2 linked regions of the Homo sapiens genome follow. The protein of the gene in region 1 interacts with the protein of each later gene in a biochemical or structural test. Each region holds a gene or a part of one and is shown on either strand. Other genes may lie near its edges.

Region 1 (7,029 bases):
GTTAAAATCCAAGCTCCTTTCCATGGCTGCAAAGCCCTACATCAGTCATTTTCAACTCTGACTGCAGAGTATAATCACTTAAGGCATATTTTTAAAATACGAATGCCCAGCTGACTGCCTCATTGGCCTGGGCTGGGGTCCCAGCACTGATATTTCCTTTGTAAGCTCTCTGGGTGATTTGAATATGTAGTCAGGGTGGAGCACGCCTGCCTGCTGTTCCTGGACAGGCCACACCCGTGCCTCTGCACGTTGGCCCTAGCTGCCCCTCCCAGGCTCGCTCTATCTCATCGCTCTGTTTTGCTTTGTGCGTGGCACTGTCGTTATCTGTGACAATCTGTCCATGCTTTACTTTCCTTGTTCTTTCCCCACCTAAATTATAAACTCCCTGGAGGCAGGACCCTGTCTGTGTGCTTCATGACTGTGCCCCCAGCATGTGGGGTGCTTCCTGCGCAAAGCAGGCGACAAGAAAATGGTTGTTGAGTAAATGAAGAAATGAATAACACCTCCTTCTTGGGTCTGATTTGACACTTACTGACTGTGTGACCACAAGCAAGTAACCTGCACTTGTGAGTTTGTTTCCTCATCTGAAAAAGCAGATCCCAGCACTTCCTTCATGCGGGACAGTAATAATAATAATAATTTGTTGGCCACCTTCTCTTCTTTTGGGCCTTCATCCCAGAGGAATCAGCCCCCATACTGTTCAAGGTACCTCAAACCTCCTTTACCCCCTCCCCCTGTGCACCCATGGGAGCCTCTCCAAGCTCCAGACTGCGGTGCCTTACTGAGAAGCTCTGGCCACGGACGAAGGGCATTTTTCGGGGCAGACTTCGCTCCTCAGACCCCCAGGAGTTGTCGATCTGGGTGTTGCGGACCACAGCATTCTCATCAAAACGGGGGTTCAGGTGGAAGGCGATGTGGTTCCCAGAGCACAGGTTGATGTGGAACCTGGGGTGGGCAGCCCACCTGAACCTTTATCCACCGAATTCTGAGTCCCATTTCCTCCCCATCATCAGTAGCCTTCCTGAAGCCAGGGGAATGGCTGGACTGACCTTGAAGGGCTCTCTCTTCCCAGAGGTCACTGGAGCCCTTGGCTTACCTCTGAGCACTGGGCAGGACAGTGCCTGACAGGAGGATGGACTTGGATGGGTACAGCCCTCCCAGAATGGTGGTGATGAAAGGCATCGGCTGTCGGAAGAAGGGGGACAGGTCAGCCACCACGCGGAAGGGGAAGATTGTACCAGTTCCCATGAATTTGGGCTGTCAGCTGAGAAGAAGCCCATGATATCTTTACTTGGTTCCATAAAAGCCAAAGGAAAACTTTCCAGTGCTCCTCAAATTAATGGGCTTAGATTAGTGTCATGAAAGGAACTTTGGCCAAACACAAAAAGACTCGTTTCGTGGGGTGAAAAGGGAGGGACATGCAATGTGCTCATATTGACACGACAGTTTTAAGGTTGAAAGCTCCTCTCCACAGCCTTCTAATTCGCTGGGATGCTTTGAAGCCCTTCAGCTTAACAAATGACTGCTTTTAATTTTTCAAGGCCAGTGGATCCCCCCACAGCGGCCCTTCACCCCCAGCCTGCCCACCACAAACAGAACCTCTGCCCTCCCTGAGAAACCACTTACATAGGCGGGGTGGGGGTACATCATAGGTGGGATGGCGGGAGTCTGTTGAAAAGAAACCAGGAAATTCAATGGGAGAGCACATGGGTGCGCGAGCACTCACCCAGGCGCACCCACGCGTTCTAGAGAGGACTCCACTGTGAGGCTGACCTCGTGAGCCTTTGGCCCTTGGACTCGCCCGTCTACCTCCCTTTTCATGTTAGCCTTCCTGGAACTTCCTGCCGTGTTCCCAGACCACACCACGGTCACCTGCCCCTCAACCCCTCCGCAGGCAGCCCCACTAATTCTAAGCCCCCCTGCCTCATTTGCACCATCAGGAGAAGAGCTTAAGCCTGTGATCAATAGTGACATCCTGGGGACCCAGGATGCAGGGCCAGGAACCTCACATCCGGGTGCTGGGGCCACTGTACTCCCCACTTGGTGACAGATGGACCAGTTTCCCTCCCGGTCTCTAGGGGACTTGTCTCTTCCACCACTGGATAAACCCTGCTTCTTCCAGAATCTCTGCTGTCCCAAGGACAGCTTTAGCCACATGTCACCTGAGCCAAGCACTCAGCCCCTAGTGTCCCCATCCTCCTTGCTAAACCGCTTTCTTCCCGACTCTAGGGCTCTAGGGAGTTTAGTTTTTGGTGAAGGAGGACACTGTGCAGCTGTGAACTGACCAGAACTTGTAGACTTACAGAGAACATCTGTCCAGGGGCGCTCTGCACTGTGTGGATGACTGTCTGGGTCTGGAAGAAAGAAACCAGGTCTCACCCAGGCTCTCACGTGTGAAAACCACCAGCTCCCACCAGAGGGCGCCACACGGCAGGCACCCTCCAGGGGGCGTAACAAGCCCAATGGCCCCACAGACCCCACAGAGGGTGGGCCCAGGTGTCTCTTCTCTCAAGGGGATGAGCGAGGGGCAAAGGTTAGAACCCTGGAGAAGACAGATGGGGACGCTGGTGGCTCTGGCCCATCTTTCCTCTCGGGGAAACGTCTCTCAGCCTAGCCTCCCTTTGCAGGTGACAGAAGTGAATGTGGGGCATGGTCTTCCGTGGCTGCCCACGGGGTGGCAACTCAGGTTGTTTCATCCAACCCCCACATCCAACCCCCAACCTCACCAGGCCGGGCAGATGGTCAAGGGTCTGGTCTGTGCCCTCCCCACTCCCAATGGGAGAGGCCCAATGCCTGGCCCTGCCTCCTCCATGAGCCCAGAAAAGCCAAAATGAGGACGATCCAAAAAGAAAGCAAGAGACTTACAATGGGAGCCGGGTTGGCAGGCCACACGCCGGGAGGCTGGAGGGGTGAGGAGAGTCAGAATGGTGGTTATCGCGGGCACCACAGAATGGGAGGAGATGGTGGCAAAACTCCAGGGAGGCTCTTGTGCTCAGAAATGCCTCCCCGGACACACCCACCTCCCTCTTGCTCCCAAGCAAGCCTTCCTGAGCCCGTGGCACCCAGATTTTTACCCCCAGGTGTACAGGGCTTTGGGGTTGGGGGGTAGGGTATCCCCACTGGTTCCTCTCGAGAGAGAGGAGACTGGGTTTGATAGAGACCTCATTGCTTTCTGTAGCTCCCACAGCGAAGAGCATTACTTCCAGTGCCATATTTCACCCATAAGGTGAGAAGTGGTATTTGTTGAAGGCCTATTGTGGGTCGATTCCTGGGCTTCAGTGCTTTCCAACAAGGGAAGCAGCCTCAGCTCCTGTGTCCCTAGTGAGGCAACGAGGCTCAGAAAGATTAAGCAACTTGCCCAAGCTTGCCAAGGTGGAAGGGATCAAATCCAAAGTGGCAGCCAGTTCTGTCTGACTGTATCCAGCACACTTTCTATCCTCCCCAGAGCCAGGGCCAGCGCCAGGGCCAGGGCCAAAGTTGGGCTGCCCTGCAAATGTTCCCTGGGGCTCGACCAGTCCTGAAGTCAGCGTGGCAGGAGGCAGGTGCCCTGTCTGTACGGTGATGAGCCATAAGAAGACTGCGTAGACAAAGCGCCCCTCCTCCCAGTCCCCACTACTTGAGTGGCCGGAGGAAGGGCTGCTCACCTCCTTGTCCTGGATCCTGCCCCACCCAGTAGACTGTTCTTGCCCTGGCTGGTATCCCATTCTCCCTGGCTGTGTGAACCACATTCCACATTCATTCACTGAGTCCCTACTGAGTGCCAGGCACAGTGCAAATGAACAAGCCACAGTCCTGGCCCTCTGGGGCCTCATGGGCATAGGGACATGGGGGTGGAGTAACGGGGACAGACACGCAAATACAGTTACAATGGGGTGCTGTGAACTGGCATGGCACAGATACATACAGACTCTGTGGGGACACCAGGGGAGCGTCCAACAATATTCCAGGCGGGGAGGACTCCCAGAGGAGCGGCACTTAGGCAGAGCATGGAAGGGCAATTAGGCATGTGCTCGAGGCAGGCTGGCAGAGGGTGCTTCCGGGACCAGGGACAGCATATGCAAAAGCATGGTGGCCCAAGAGGGCCTTGAGTGAGCTGCAGAGGCTGCGTGAGCTTCGTGGGTTGGGGGTGAGGCAGGGACGTGGATTGGGGCAGACTGGGGAGGAATTCATATACCCTGCTGGAGAATTTGGGCTTTATTTGAAGGGCTGGGGGCTGTGAAGATTTTTAAGCAGGGAGAGGGTGTGATCACATTTGCTTATAAGAAGGTCACTGTGGCAGTGGTTGGGTGTAGGGGGTGGGGAACTGGACCCCTGTCGTCATGGTGAGGAATCCCAGAGGCCTGGACCACATCGGTGGCTTCAGGAGGGAGACACGTTCGTGCCTTGGAGAGACGTAAAGAAGAGGGAGTGAAGAATCCAGGGTGACCCCCAGGTCCCCAGCTCTGGGTGCCCAGCGGACAGAGACAGGGAACTCTTGGGTGGGCAAGATGCGGCCTGTAGGCCCTGAGTGGCCTGCTGGCTGGGGCCAGCCTCTCAGACCCTCGGTCCTTCCTACTGTCTGCTCGGCCACCCAGGGCCTCTGTGTTGAACTCACTTTTTGTCTGCGCCCCCTGGGCCTGGGTGGGAAACAGACAGGCTGGGAGAACGGCACCGTGGAGAAGGCAGGCTGAACAGGGACTGTGCGGGGGTTCTGTTAAAACAAAAGGCACCGGGCAGTGAGGAGAAGCATTAATAGAGCCAAGGAGAAGCCGAAAGGCAGAGGCAGGGGCAAGAGGGAGAGACCAGGCAGGCAGGGCGATGAGGCAAGGGGGTTAGGGCCCTGCCAAGATGGGATGGGAAAGAGCCAGGCTCTGGTGAGCAGTGCAGGGGTGCGGTCTCCCTCCAGCTCTTCCCTCCCCTACCACCCGCAGGGGAGAGAGTCAGGGAAGGAGGGAATGAGAGATGAGGACCAAAGGGCGAGAAGCCCAGATTTGCTGAGGGCCTACTGTGTGCTTCGCTGATCTCAGGGAGCAGCCTCGAATGCCAAAAGGGTAACAGCAGCTCCCACCCAGCTGCTGGTGCCCTGTGGGAATGTGGGCCCAGCATACCCTAATCTTCCCATTTTTCACATGGTATTGGTATCTCCTGACCTTATTTAGTTTTATTTATTTTATTTTATTATTTAAACAAAGTTTTTTGGAGACAGGGTCTTGCTGTTTTGCCCAGACAGAACTCTAATTCCTGGGCTCAAGCAATTCTCCCACCTCAGCCTCTTGAGTAGCCAGGACTGCAGACCTCCACCACCATACCTGACTCTCCTGACCTTTTAGATGTTGGCAACACATTCAAAGTTGTTAAAACACAGAGGTCAAACAGACCCTGGTGTGGGCCCAGGGGGGCCACTGTGTGACCTCTGATATCTGTCTCCTCACTGAACCACACAACCACCCATGGGGGGCAGGCAATGACCATTCTACAGATGAAGAAACCAAGGCTGAGAGAGGTGAAGTTGCTTGTCTAAGATCCCACAGATGATGAATGGCAGAGCTGGGAATTTGAACTGGATTCAGTTTGGTTCTTGAGCCTGGGCTCTTTCTAGAACAATATGCCCTCCTTACCAGGATGGAAACTGAGGGATGAAGAGAAAGGGGCAGCTGAGGAGTCTGGGAGACCAAGGCAGGTGTTCCGGACAGAGACAGTAACACAGAAGGAGGGGCAGAGTGACAGAGGAGAAGGGGCGGGCAGGTACTGGGACAGGGAAGCAGAGGTTGTCCCCAGAGTGACCTGGGTAGGAGATTGGCTTGGGCCCACCCAGCAGGGCTTAGACACAGCTACGCTGGGCCCTGCATCCCAGCCCCTGGGACCGGTGCCAGGTGGACAGTCTGACCTGGAAGCTGATGTAGGACAGCTGCACAGAGCCATTGACGGAGATGGTGTCCACACGGTGGAAGGGCACGCGGTGGAAGTACTGCACGAAGAGGATCCCGTTCACCATCACCTGCCAGAGGAGAGCACATGTTCTGGGGGAGGCATCCCAGGCTGGGATGGGGACCACCCCTGAGCTCCTGGACCCTCTTTCTAGAAAATGAAGACCTGAGTCTGGTCTTCAGTGTGGGGCCAGTTACAGGAACGTGTGTGTGACCCAAAGTGCATCAACCCGAGTCTCTACCAGGCTCCAGTTGGACTTTTCGTTCTTCTGGTTGTTTCCTGCAGTAGGTTTGTCTTTCTAGTCTTAGCTCACCTGGGGTTTCATTTATTAATTATTTATTTTTCCTTCAACTGTTTTTTTTTGTTTTTTGAGATGGAATGTCAGTCTGTCGCCCAGGCTGGAGTGCAGTGGGTCAAGTGATTCTCGTGCCTCAGCCTCCCGAGTAGCTGGGATTACAGGAGCCCACCACCATACCCAGCTAATTTTTGTATTTTTAGTAGAGATGGGGTTTCACCATGTTGGCCAGGCTGGTCTTGGACTCCTGACCTGAAGCGATCCGCCCTCCTCAGCCTCCCAAAGTGCTGAGATTATAGGCGTGATCTGCCATTTCCATCCCCTTCAACTTTGATTTTAAGTTCCAGGGTGCAAGTACAGGATGTGCAGATTTGTTAACTAGGTAAACGGGTGCCATGGTGGTTTGCTGCAGAGATCAACCCATCACCTTGGTATCAAGCCCAGCATCCATTAGCTAATCTTCCTGATGCTCTCCCTCTCCGACCAGGCCCAAGGGTGTGTTGTTTCCCCCCATTTTGTCCATGTGTTCTCATCGTTCAGCTCCTACTTATAAGTAAGAACATGTGGTGTTTGGTTTTCTGCTCCTGCGTTAGTTTAAGGATAAAGGCTTCCAGCTCCATCCATGTTCCTGCAAAGGACATGATCTCATTCCTTTTTATGGCTGCAGCGGTATTATTTATATATGCATAAAATGCTCATGGGGAGCAGAGGAGAGGTGACCTCAGGTTGCATACTGAACGAATGGGGACATCCTTATCTCAGATAAGCATACTTGGACTGACTTACCCACAGGCTTCTCAAGCCCAGAGACCTACTCTGCTTGCAAG
Region 2 (7,029 bases), on another chromosome or scaffold:
ATAGGAATAAAAACTTAGATCAACAGCATAAAGTGCTTAAAACAGTGCCTAACACACAGCAAGCACTTTATAAATATTTCCTCTTATTTTTAAGTGTTTTAAGTGTTCAGTTACTTGCCCAGTAATACTTACCTCTTAAATAGTGAAGCTAGGATTCAATTAAAAGTCTGTGTCATGAAATACTGCCCTTCCCAAATCATCCAAGTATTGCATAAATTTGCATTTCTTTAATTACTTATGAGGTTGAAATTGTTCACATTTCTATTCATAATGAAATTTTAAGGCTATTTGGAAACTTCAAGAAAAAACAGAAAAACTAATGTATATTAATGGTAATTTACATATTCAAATTAGCTTCTGTTCTAATTTTATCTTTATTATTCATGGATCTCTGTACCAGACTCTGCGATAAATATGGTTTATCCCTGAGGCTTTCTGTGTAACATCAAAATTAAGTTGCAAAATAATTGTAACTTTGAAAATGAATTACGTATTGACACTTCTCTCCAAACCTAAAGAAAATGAAATGATCTACCTTCTTTAATAATGACCAAATATATGTAACGTGATACCAGAAATGGAATAGCCCAAGTATAGTAAGATAATAGTTCAACACTATGCTAAAAACATATTTCATAGTTTTCACATTCAGGGAAATCAGACATCTTACAGATCAAGTTCTTTAGTGTTCCACTTTCCACTTTCTTATTTACCCACGTGATTCAGCTTGCACATGGAAAAAAGAAAGTAAATGACTGTTAAAGGCAATAAATGTTACACACAAAATCCATTGTGTTTCTACATACCAGCAATGAACTATCCAAAAATTAAATTAAGAAAAACTTCCATGTATAATAGTATCCAAATGAATACAATACCCAGGAATAAATATAACAAAGGAGGTGAGAGACTTGTACACCGAAAACTATAAAACACAAAAACAATGCTGAAGGATATCAAACACACATCCAGGTACTCAAAGACTTAACATTATTAAGATGGCAATACTACCCAAAGCAATCTACAGATTCAATATATTACCTATCAAAATTTCTATGGCCTTTTATGCAGAAATGGAAAAGCTGATTCTCAAATTCATATGGAATTGCAAGGGGCCCTAAACAGGCCAAACAATTTTTAAAAAGAAGAACAAAGCTGGAGAACTCACATTTCCCAATTTCAAAACCTTACCACAAAGCTACAGTAATCAAAACAACATGGCACTGGCATAGTGATAGATATATAGACCAAAGGAGTAGAATTGAGCATCCAAAAATAAACTGATACATCTATAGCCAATTGATTTTAAAGATGCCAAAGACCATTCAATGGCAAAAGAACAGTGTCTTCAACAAGTGGTGCCGGGACAACTATTCACATGCAAGACAATGAAGTTGGAATTTATACCATATACAACAATTAACACAAAATGAATCAGTGACCTAAATATAAGGAGTAAAATTATAAAACTCTTGGAAGAAAACATAGGGTTAATCTTCATGGCCTGGGATTTGGAAATGGATTCTTGATATGACACCAAAAGCATGGGTCAAATAAATAAAATGGACTTCATCAAAATTCAAAACATTTATCTATCAAAGGACATTATCAAAAAATTGAAAAAAAAAATCCACATAATGGAAGAAAACATTTGCACATTATATATTTGATAATGAACAGTCTAGTATCTGGAGTATATAAAAACACAACTCAATACAAAAACACCAACAATGTAGTTTTTTAAAAGGGCAAAGAACTTGAATAGACATTTCTCTAAAGCAGATACACACATGGCCAACAAGCACATGAAAAGATGCTTAAAATCATTAGTAATCTGGGAAACGCAAATCAAAACCACAGTGAGATACCACTTCATACCCATAAGGATGGCAATTATAATTTCTTAAAAACAGAAAATAAGTGTAGGCAAGGATGTAGGGAAATTGGAACCCTCACACATTGCCAGTGGGAATGTAAAATGGTTTAGCTACTGTGGAAAGCAGTTTGGCAGGTCCTCAAAAAGCTAAACAAAATTACCATAAGACCCAGCATTCCATTCTTGGTATATACCCGAAAAAGTGAAAACAGGTTCTCAAATAAATCCTTGGACACAAATATTCACAGCAACATATTCATAATAACTAAAAGGTGGAAACAACCCAAATATCCATCGATGGATAAATGGATAAACAAACTGATATATAGACATGGAAAGGAATATTCTTCTGACATGGAAAGGAATATTCTTCTGCTATGAAAAGGAAAGAAGTACTGATATATGCTACATGTGGGTAAACCTTGAAAACATTTTGCTAAGTGAAAGAAGCCAGGGATAAAAACTCAAATATTGAAAATTCAATTTATATAAAATATCCAGAATAAGTAAATCCATAAAAACAGAAAACAGATGTGGTTGCCATGAGCTAGGGGCATCAGGGAATGACTGCTTAATAGGTATGAGATTTTACTTCAAAGTGATAAAAATGTTTTGAAACTAGACAGAAGTGATGGTTGCACAACACTGCAAAGGTACTAAATGCCACTGAACTATTGCTTTAAAATGGTTAATTACGTGAATTTTTACCTCAATTTTTTTTCCAAAAAAAGCAATTAACATTTATAATCCATGTTGGATAAATGTGGAAATTATAAGCAGCTCTTCCTCTTTGAGGGTCAAAAGAGTAAATGACAAACATAGTAAGTATGCAAATAAAGTATTCTTCAACATTTAATGAGGTGTTTCACATCTAAATAAAGTAGATGTTTCTCCCTCATGACTTCATTCAGAAATATTCATTTATCACCAGCTCCTCACTAGGATTATTTCCCGGTGGAAATTCATTCCCTCTATAAAGTTTACCTGGATATTTCTATCATTAGAAACAGAGCCCGGGCAGGGAGTGGTGACTCACGCCTGTAATCCCAGCACTTTGGGAAGCTGAGGAGGGAGGATTGCTTGGGGCCAGGAGTTTGAGACCATACCAGGTGACAGAAAAAGACGGTCTCTTTAAAAAAACAAAAAAAAAAGAAAGAAAGAAACTGAGCCTGAACTACATTCACTTTCAATCAATTCAAGGTCAACGTATTTCTAACTCCTTAAAAATGATTCTAAGCCAAATTCTTGTAGCTGACCAAGAGCTCTCTTACATCAAAGCGCAAAACATCCCAAAATTTCAGTTTTCTTTTCAGTTTACATTAATGTGGCAATAAACATTTAAATGTTTTAATGTCTGAATATTTCATAATTATTAATATTTAATAATTATTAACTCTATAACCACAAAATTGACAATGTTCCTCAGACTTTATTTCAAAGTTAAAAAGACTGATTTCCTCAGGAAGATCTACATCGTTGAAACAACTAGAAATAACAAATACCTTCCTCAGGGAACACCTTCTCTTAAAAGGAATATAAAGGTAGATATAAAAATGCCTGATTATGTTACTGCCTGCATAAAATTCCTTAACAGATTAAGCAGTTTTCAGAATACAGCTCAGAACTAAACTGTGGTTTAGCACAAAGTTCTTCATAAACTGGCTCGTCTCTGTATATTTAGCTTAGTCCCTTGCCATTCCTCCAGTCTTTTTCTCTGTAACCATGAGCACTTTCTCTTCTCCCAGACTCTCATTATATGCTTCTCTATGCCACCAAAATGCAACACAACTAAATGGTCTGTCACTCCCATTATTCCTTAAGCTCCTTAAAGTTAGGAGCTATACATTTTCTAATTCTGTATACAATACCTAGCATCTAGCACAATATCAGAGGCAAGTGACTGTTGTATAAATTAAAGTATGAAAGTGAGTATTATGATCCATTATTAAGGTCTAAAATACTATGGCTTATTTTTCCTTTACATAATGGCAATGGGGGAAACTATATATTAGGTAATATTTTGCTCTATTTTAAAAAATTACAATGTAATCTTACCGGTAAATAGCATCAACAAATTTTGTAGACATCTTTTCTTAAACATTAGTTTATTAACTAAGAGTATATATTTAGCTTGATGCTTATTCAATGGAAGCTCATGCTTGGCTCTATATTATCTACGTTAGTGAAGTGAAACATTAGTGCAAGAGATATTTTACAAGAAGTCGTAAAAACAGATTTTAACTGGACAATTCCAACTACTTCATTTACAGGTGAGGAAATGAACTGAGAGGTTAAGATATTTATGCAAAATCACCCAGCTAATTAGTGGGAATGTTGGGTGACACCCAGACTCCCATAATGTTGATGCTTTCAGCTACAATATAACTTTATTCCTATTCCAACCTCATAGATAAGCCAGGGGATTCTCTTTTTATTTTTATCTTATTTTATTTTTTTGAGACAGAGTCACGCTCTGTCACCCAGGCTGGAGTACAGTGCCGCGGTCTTGGCTCACTGCAACCTCCGCCTCCCAGGTACAAGCAATTCTCCTGCCTCAGCCTCTCAAGTAACTGGGATTACATGAGCACGCCACCACATCTGGCTAATTTCTGTATTTTAGTACAAATGGGGTTTTACCATGTTGCCCAGGCTGGCCTCGAACTCTGGTCTCAAGTGATCTGCCCACCTCAGCCTCCCAAAGTGCTGGGATTACAGACATGAGCCACAGTGCCCAGCCGGATTCTCTTCTTCTCACCCTCAATCTAGGGGGTATATGGGTCCTTAATACATGCCACATTTAACTGACTCCTTTAATCTTTAAGATGTAGCCTCTGCCTTAACACCTTCTCCCTGTAATAAACATTTGATGAGTACCTACGTTTGTTGAGCATTAAACACATCTAAGCCATTCCACTGGGAGGAAGGGGAAAAGGGAGAGACAAATGCGAATAAGAAAGACATGGTCCCTTCCTTCAAATGCTCTGCAAAATTAGTTACAATCTGGTATAGTATTCATTATTACCATCTGCTTAAATAGGTACAAATACATAGTACGAGAAAAATCTAATTACCGTCTATTATGAAAATGCACCTTATTTCTCCCATTAGCAGATAAGCTCCATGCAGGCAAGGATTTTTCTCTTTAGAACAGTGCCTGACAAAGAAGGTACTCAACAAATATTTGAGTGAATAAATGCTACAGAAAAACCCCTAAGTAGTAGGATCCAAGTAATGTTTCCAAAAATGGTATGACAAGAAAAGTAAACCTTCTTCTCATGCTCAACAACATTTTTCTGTTGGTTTACTGAGAACTTGACAGGAAACTGAAAATAGTTGAGATGGATATATTTTACTACTTAATTCAACATCATGCTCTACCCAATTGTACCAAACCCTAGAAAACCTTCCAAGAAAGGAAACCTACAGTCCTTCTATGACTTAGTCCTGAGCCCTTTTTCAAGTACAAAGGGTCTCCAGATGTTTTCCTTTTTTTCTTATAATAGGTTCTGGGATCTCTGTGTTTGCCCCCCACTTGTGAAGATAATAATACTGGTAACAAAAACATCTCAATTACTATCTATCATGTACCAGACCCTTTTCATATATTAACTCAGTATTTCAAAACAACTCTCAGAATTGGTATTGTCATCAACATGGTTTTACAGAATGGGAAAAATGGTAAGCCTCTTATCCTTTGAGTGTCTTCTTCCACAATCCTGGCTATAAGTAAAATACAATCTCATTAGCTGCACCCTGACTTTCATTGTTGCCCCCCATAACAAGCACACAGAGTCTCTGATTCTAAAGGTTTTGCTATTAACCAATTCAAGGTAACAAAGACAGGATAATAAAAATAACAAATCTGGAGATGTTCAAATGTTCAACAATTCAGCATTCAACATATGTTTATAAATGCCTGGTACCACACAAAAATCAGACTCTCAAAATTCTTACGGTGAGAATCCCTAGCCTCCAATTTACTAGCTATTTTTTGAATAAATGGGAGCCTTGCTAGGTCTAAAAGTTTTTCCTCCCCACTACCTTACCTCCTGATCTCCCAGGACACGAATCAAAATACACTAAAGGGAAAAATAATGGGTGCATCTTCATTGAGAAATCTGTACTTGTGAGTAATTTAAGGAGTCACATCCCTCTTGTGAAACTCTGACCCACAGAGGAGTGGTTACTTTTAGGTCATTTCCTTACAATGTAAGCATTTGTTCTCTTCCCTTTTCATAGAATACACAGAACTTCCAGTTTTCATTCTACATTTCCAAACGTCTGAACAACTCCTCAGCTCCAAAAGTAAACTCCCTATCATCCTCTCTCCTCCTAAATCTCCTTCCACCAAAACCTGTTCTTCATGATAATATCCTTATTTCTGTTAATAACATCACTATCCTCCCAAAAATTTGTCCTAGGCCTATACTCTGGTCAGTTCCCAGTGTCAATGTCATTATAATGTCAACATCTTTCAAATCTATACCTTCACTACGATCATCACTTCTTGCCTCAACTACTATAATTAAATTGCATGGTATTCCTACTTCTAGGCTTCCACTCTTCCATTGGACCTGTTCACAAATTATTATCCATAAAGAGAGTTTCTTCTTAACTAAAAATCATATATAAAATCTTTAGTCTGACATTTAAGAATCTCCATAATCTGTATCCATCTATCTTTACCAGTCTGGTCCTTAAACATATATCCTTACCAAATGTATTCTGCTTTTCCTATCTCTATACCTTTGCTTGGGCAGTGTCCTTATGTGGAACTTTTTTTTTTCCACCCTCCTTCAACTGCTAACAATCTTTCAAATGACCTCATCCTCAATGAAAAAAAAAAAAAGGCTAAGGCATATAATTTACTAAACATATACGCCATCTGATTGCTTCACAAATTATCTGAATCCCCACAAAAACAAGTAAGGAAGGAGTTAAGGAAATTGAGGAGGAGCTTCCCCAAGGTCACCAGCAAGTACGAATCCACAATAGCCCCACAGCATTCCATATTTTTTAATGAAATAAGACACAAAAGAGACAGACGTTCTGTAGTCAGAATACCTGTGATCAAATTCCAGCTACTCCACCAGCTACTTGTGTGAACTCAGAAGTTATGTATCTGTGATGCCTTAATTCCCCCACTTCCCACT

Evidence for each region. The genes of interacting proteins can lie anywhere in the genome.
Region 2: the proteins of LGALS9 (region 1) and RNF13 form a complex in vitro, tested with the Homo sapiens proteins (one study listed by BioGRID).

The regions. Positions count from the first base shown.
Region 1 is NC_000017.11:27,641,186-27,648,214, reverse strand, and holds part of LGALS9 (galectin-9), read right to left. Parts: intron 5,978-7,029; coding exon 5,867-5,977; intron 4,691-5,866; coding exon 4,595-4,690; intron 4,383-4,594; coding exon of another isoform or gene 4,257-4,382; exon of another isoform or gene 4,180-4,256; intron 2,902-4,179; coding exon 2,866-2,901; intron 2,355-2,865; coding exon 2,304-2,354; intron 1,669-2,303; coding exon 1,627-1,668; intron 1,186-1,626; coding exon 1,097-1,185; intron 946-1,096; coding exon 783-945; intron 1-782. UniProt on the Homo sapiens protein: Binds galactosides. Has high affinity for the Forssman pentasaccharide. Ligand for HAVCR2/TIM3. Binding to HAVCR2 induces T-helper type 1 lymphocyte (Th1) death.
Region 2 is NC_000003.12:149,816,215-149,823,243, reverse strand, and holds part of RNF13 (E3 ubiquitin-protein ligase RNF13 isoform 1 precursor), read right to left. Parts: intron 5,958-7,029; exon of another isoform or gene 671-5,957; intron 1-670. UniProt on the Homo sapiens protein: E3 ubiquitin-protein ligase that regulates cell proliferation. Involved in apoptosis regulation. Mediates ER stress-induced activation of JNK signaling pathway and apoptosis by promoting ERN1 activation and splicing of XBP1 mRNA.